2 separate regions of the Homo sapiens genome follow, and region 2 is linked to region 1. Evidence: fine-mapped expression QTL. Tissue or cell type: whole blood. Region 1 holds a variant in brackets; the other region holds the start of a gene. All regions are shown on one strand. Distances are between the middles of the regions.

Region 1 (2,911 bases):
TAATGCTTTATATTTTCTTGGTTCCTTGTATGTTTCATAATATTGGATTGTATATTGGATATTGTGTATATTACATGGTGGAGACTCTGGATTCTGTTATAGTCCTCTAAAAAGAATTGAGTTCTAGAGGGCAATTAGCTTCATTTGACAAGAACTGCACACCTTCTTTTGGATGTCAGCTCAAATCTCATACAAATATTTTAACTTTTGGTGAAGTCTATCCTGCACATCTATGATTTGTGAATTAGCCAGAGATTTGGGCAGAGTATATACTCAAAATTTAGGGTTTCCCCCTTTTGGCTATCTTTTTTGCAAGATTGTCCTTCATTTCCCAGTGGTCTCATTTCATAACAGAAAGACCCTTATGTCTTTTCTATCAGGGTTTAGTCACCAAGGTGGAGCTGACATGGGCCTATCATTAGAATAAAAACCTAAGACATTCCTTTCTTCCAAGTTTCAAGTCCACTCTAAAATCTTCCTCTCTTCTTTACATTGCCTGCAGAACATTTTTTTCTCCAGAGTTGACAGTTGTTTTCCACAGGAAGTACAGCTATGATAAGAGCTTACTTAGTCATACCAGGTGCAGAAACAACATGGCATTGAGCAGAAGACACTGTAGCTGAGGAATTACATCTGTTTCTAAATTATATAATGACATATTTGAACCCAGATAAAAGGAGGGAAAAATATGACTCAGAGAACAAATTGCCATGAAGTCAACTTTTCAATCTGAGTTTGTTCATATCTTTTCTGCTTCTGTACAAGTGATTAATGCACTCTATATCTCAAAATTCAGTGGTGAAAATGAATACTGACTTAACATTGGCAAGAATCAAGAAACTCCATTTGGGATCCCATCAGAAAAAGAAAGACATATATTTCAGGGCCTTCTGAAGACCTGGTCTGTTTTCTAAGATAATTTAAACTGTCACTTACAAAGTTGTATATAACAAAAATAAATTTGAAGGATGTCTGCCCATTTCTCAAAGCCAAGCTCCATTCCCTTCCCTATAAATTTTTTTCTAATGTGTGCTTATATCAATATTAACTCATTTCACAACTGCCTATGCCATACCCAATAGTCCTTTGTTATATATTTACTTTTCTATTTGAGAATAATAAAGTTAGAAAGTAAGAGATCAGTTATACAAACTCACCATAAATGAGCACATTAAGTATATGTTAAGATATAACATTATTTTC[T/C]CTGAGAGAGAGAGAGAGAGGGACTACCAAATCACCATACCTTGAACAAGATAGAGATGAATGTTCCTTTCCCGTAACAGTTCAAGGTAAGCAGCAAGGGCAGGTGAGCTGACTCTACCATCTCAACCTATAACTTCCCTCTCACAGTCAAAGTGACTTCTTCAATTCTTATTATCTTCCAATGAGCAGAAAGGCAGAAAAGGACTATGGGATCTGAGCACAACCCTCTGTGAGAGCAAAAACAGTCCTGAAGAGGTACATATTTATCTGCTCACACCCCATTGGCTAGACCATACTTCAGTGGCACATATGGTTGCAAGACAGTCCAAGAAATGCAGTCATAATCTAGAAAGTCATGCATCCAGCTAAAATTCTGTCACCAAGAATAAGTGGTAAGTAGATACTGTGGGACAAACAGCATTATGTCACTCTCTAAATACATGAAATTTATGAGGACTAAATCCTGACATATTCTTGACTCCTTAAATTTGCAAATACCTCTCTCCCATATAATATATACCTTAAAATGCACATTGAACAAGAGATAATCACAGAATTGCACTGACATTGTGGTGCTAGGCTCAGCTGGCCCAGCCCTTTCCACAAAGGAGTGGTTAGCTATTTTCCATGTCTGCCTCACAGACTGTGATTTAACTTCATGCTTTGGAAAATGGTGTGTTAGTAGCTGGCCATGTGCCTTCAACTTGCTTAGGAATATTTGAAACTATGTAAGTGGATCAGTGCCTGATCCCAACTGTTCATTGGATCAAATGGAAAACACACACACACACACACACACACACACACATCATTCCTGAACAGTCTGACTTAATGGATCTGTAGCAGGGTCATGGCATCCCTTGTTGTAAAACTTGCACAGGTGATTCTAATGTATAACCAGAGTTGGGAACCACTGAGCTAAGACATTCAAACTCCACGTTGGCTGTGGGAGACATCAAAAAGCATTGGGCATGTCTCCTGGCTTCAAAAATATTTTAAACTGATTCATTGTCCATATCACATAATTCGTACTTTATTATATATTCTAATCCTCTAGTGTAACTTATGTCTAGACTATAACTTTGAGAATTAAACAAGAAACATGAATTGACTGTCATCTTTGTACCTGGCACTTTCAGGGTATGACAACTTTTACATAGGAAAGCGTCAAGGTTCCTTCTCTCAAGGCACCCTAGTCTAGCAGATAGAAAGAAAACTCCACAGGATCTAGTCTGTTAAGCTCTAAGCAATCAATCAATAATTGCATATAATTGATTTCAGTATTTTCTTTAATATGCTTAGTATTTGATATCTCATGGGTTCTTTTTATTTTTTATCTTATTTTATTTGAGATGGAATCTTGCTCTGTTGCCCACGCTGGAGTGCAGTGGCACCATCTCAGCTCACTGCAACCTCCACCTTCCGGGTTCAGGCAATTCTCCTGCCTCAGCCTCCCAAGTATTTGGGACTACAGGTCGAACTCCTGACCTCAAGTGATCCACCCACCTCGGCCCCCCAAAGTGCTGGGATTACAGACGTGAGCCACTACACCCAGCCTCATGGGTTCCTTTTAAATAGTTTTAGTACTGGCTGGGCACAATGGCTCACACCTGTAATCCCAGCACTTTGGGAGGCTGAGGTGGAAGGATTGCTTGAGCCAAGGAGTTCAAGACCAGCCTGGGCAATAAGGTGAAACTCCATCTCTATA
Region 2 (2,911 bases), 30 kb after region 1:
AAATAAAATTACTTCCCAGCTGACATTATTTTCCCTCACTCCCGGCAGCCCCTTTACTCCCTCTGTACTGCTGTTGGGATGCTTTTACAGCAAGCATCGCGTGGCTTGGTGTAGGTCTATGTTCCACGTCAGGTTGGAAGATCCTTGCAAACAAGAATCTTAAAAGAGTTGCCTGGCATACAGGACACCTTCCCTACCTGATTTGTGAACGGAAATAAACAAACCACCCAGGCAAGAACCGGCTCTACAGACCAGCCTCTTGGTCCAGTTCTCTGGTCTGAAGGGTTCAGATGCCACGCTGGGAGCTGGAAGCGGACAGAACTCTTACCTCCTCCAAAACGGCCCGGGCGGCTTCCCGGTCCGGGAAGACCACGGAACTGGGCAAGTCTGGCACCACCGGGTGCAGCGGGGGCTCCGGGACGGGCACGACCTGTGCGCAGCCCACCTGCAGCCGCCTGCCGTCTTGCACCTCCCAGAGGCGCTGCCACAGCTGGCCGCGCGGGTCGGCCTCGAACTCGCCCAAGTGCGGGCGTGGTGCCTCCTGACAGGCGCCCAGCAGCTCGAGCAGCGCTTGCCGGGTGTCAGGGTCATCCAGGGGGTCGCGCAGCAGGAAGCCTTGCTGTGCGCCGCCGGCCTGGCCGCCCGGGCAGTAGCAGAGCAGCCTGAGCAGCTGGCACCGCTGGAAGGGGCCGCGGCGCAGCTGGTGCAGCAGGCGCTGGTGCAGCCGCGCCGCCCGGACCCGGGCCCCGCAGCCGGCGTCCGGGGTCACGGGCACGCACAGCGAGTAGCTGCGCTCCGGGGGCCCCAGCAGCGCCGCCAGGCGGGGGTCGGGGGCGTCTGCGTCGCCGGGGGCGTCGGCGCCTAGGGCGAAGTGAGCCAGGGTGCAGTCGGGAAGCTCCAGGACGAAGCGGCGCGGCGGAGCCATGGCCCCAGCGCAGACCCCGCGCCGCCCGAGCAGCGGCCCCGACAGTGGCCCGCGCAGGAGCCGGCGGGCGAAGGCCATGGGCGCCTCAGCGACGCCGCCCTCGGCCCCGCCTCGGAAACGAAACCTGGCGGGAGCCAGGCGCCGGCGGGAAACGAAACCCGGAGGGAGCCAGGCGCCAGCGGGAAACGAAAGCGAAGCGTTGCGGGGAAACGAAAGCCGGAGGCCCAGGCGGGGCAGGAGCCCTGGGGCTGGGGCGCCCTTCCGGCCTCTCCTCCTCGCCGCGAGATGTGCGCGATAAACGGCCGGCGCTCGGGAGCAGACGCTTGGCCCCGGGGCCCCAGGTGCGCGGCTCCGCGGGCCTGCGCGGTCCCCAGGCGCCGGCTCCCGGGGCTGACACCGAATGAGGCCCCGCGCCGTCGGCCCCAAGGTAGCTCCGTGTGCGTTCTGCGGGTGGCTGGCGGCCCCGACCCTGGTTTGAGTTCCTCCTCTGCGGCTTATGCCGGGTGCATGGAGGGGGGCGGGGGTGCACGCGCGAGGGACAGAGAAGTCCCTTCCCGGTGTAACGGGCTCTTCAACGCCCACTTGCAGGCGCACTACTGCCCTTGGATGACTGACCAGGCCCTGCAGACCATGGGCTCCCTCCCCGACCTCAACTCCTAGCTCTGACCACGCGTCCCCGCCCCTCTAATCCTGCAGAGCTGCTTTCCTGCGGGAACAGGGCGCAGTTCTGGCTCTTCCCTCTCCTGTATCTTATCTCACCTGTGCACTCACTCACCTGTGCACACACTCACCTTTGCACACACTCACCTGTGCACAAGCTTTTCCCTCTTCTTGGAATTGCCCTCTCCCTTTTGCTGACTCTCCAACTGGGAAGTGTCGCCCAGATTGGCACCTCGAAATCGCCTTTCTTCCACCAAATTGAAGTTTCCTGCACTAAGGTGAAGTGTGTCAGGATAGCACCCTCTGCCTGCCACAGTCCAGCATCAGCACTGTTGCTGCCTAACAGTGTAACTGCCTAACAGTGTAACAGTGTTTGCGCAGTTATTTGGATATTTTATTCTGTGTTTACTCATTAACTGATGCCTTTTAAAAATGATGTCAAGCAAACCAAAAACAAACAAAAAGATAATATTCTCCAGGGAAACTCTCTCAAAAAAATAGAATTGAGACGAAGATTGAAAACATTAGATGAGCTGAAAGCAGTTTTTTTTTTATGTCTTAATAGTATTGGACTTAAACTTGGGATTATATTTAATTCTGAAAAAAAAAGTCTTAACAAACGTGAAATATAGATAGGTGGTTGGAGTGTGGGTTAATAGGCTAAGAAGAAAGAAGAATTAGGAGTTTAAAATTTTTTAGCTCTTTGAGAATAGAATAGTTTTTATTCTTTCTCAGGAATTTCACTTTTGGACATTTAGCATGTACCGGTGGTTTCACGTGTATGTAGTATATGGAAGTAAGAGTCTTCTAGTTACTCCCTTTTCTTCTCTAAGACAGTACTGCATCCTCAAGCCTGCTTGACCTTTTCCCTATGCCATCCACCTCTCTGGATGTATTAGTCTATCCTGGCTGCCATAACAAAATACCACGGACTGGGCCGCCTAAACAATAGAAAATTTGTTTTCTCAAAGTTCAGGTGGCCAGAGAAGCTGGAGATCAAGTTGCCAGCAGGGTTTGCTTTTTCTGAGGCCTCTCTTTCTAGCGTGCAGACCGCCTCCTTCTCTCTGTGTTCTCACGGGACCTTTCCTTTGTGCTTGCATCCTTGGCGTCTCCTTGAAGTTCCAAATTTCCTCTTCTGGGAAGGACACCAGTCAGATTGGGTTAGGGCCCATCATAATGTTCTCATTTTAATGTAATCACCTATTGAAAGCCTTATTTTGAAATACAGTCATACTGTGAGGCACTGGGGGCTAGGCCTGAGCATGAATTTTGGGGGACATGATATAGCCTATAACCCCCCACATATCTGGGTTAGTAGCCTCTCCT

Evidence for each region. PIP is the estimated chance that this variant, and not a neighbour inherited with it, causes the effect. A credible set is the group of variants that fine-mapping cannot tell apart.
Region 2: CMPK2 starts here. The variant in region 1 is the best candidate, but not a certain one, in a credible set for the expression of CMPK2 in whole blood (TOPMed, PIP 0.58).

What each region holds. Positions count from the first base shown.
Region 1 is chr2:6,835,060-6,837,970 of GRCh38, forward strand. All of the region lies in intron 1 of NRIR (negative regulator of interferon response), which reads right to left. Among named protein-coding and RNA genes, the nearest start is that of NRIR, 3.9 kb to the right of the region's middle. The variant T/C (reference allele first, on the strand shown) is at 1,204.
Region 2 is chr2:6,864,694-6,867,604 of GRCh38, forward strand. It overlaps CMPK2 (cytidine/uridine monophosphate kinase 2), which reads right to left and starts at 1,214. Exons shown (of 5, transcript NM_207315.4): 1 at 329-1,214. The coding sequence starts at 1,003. It also overlaps a transcript of RSAD2 not described here. RefSeq lists silencers at 525-964, 1,205-1,474 and an enhancer at 985-1,204.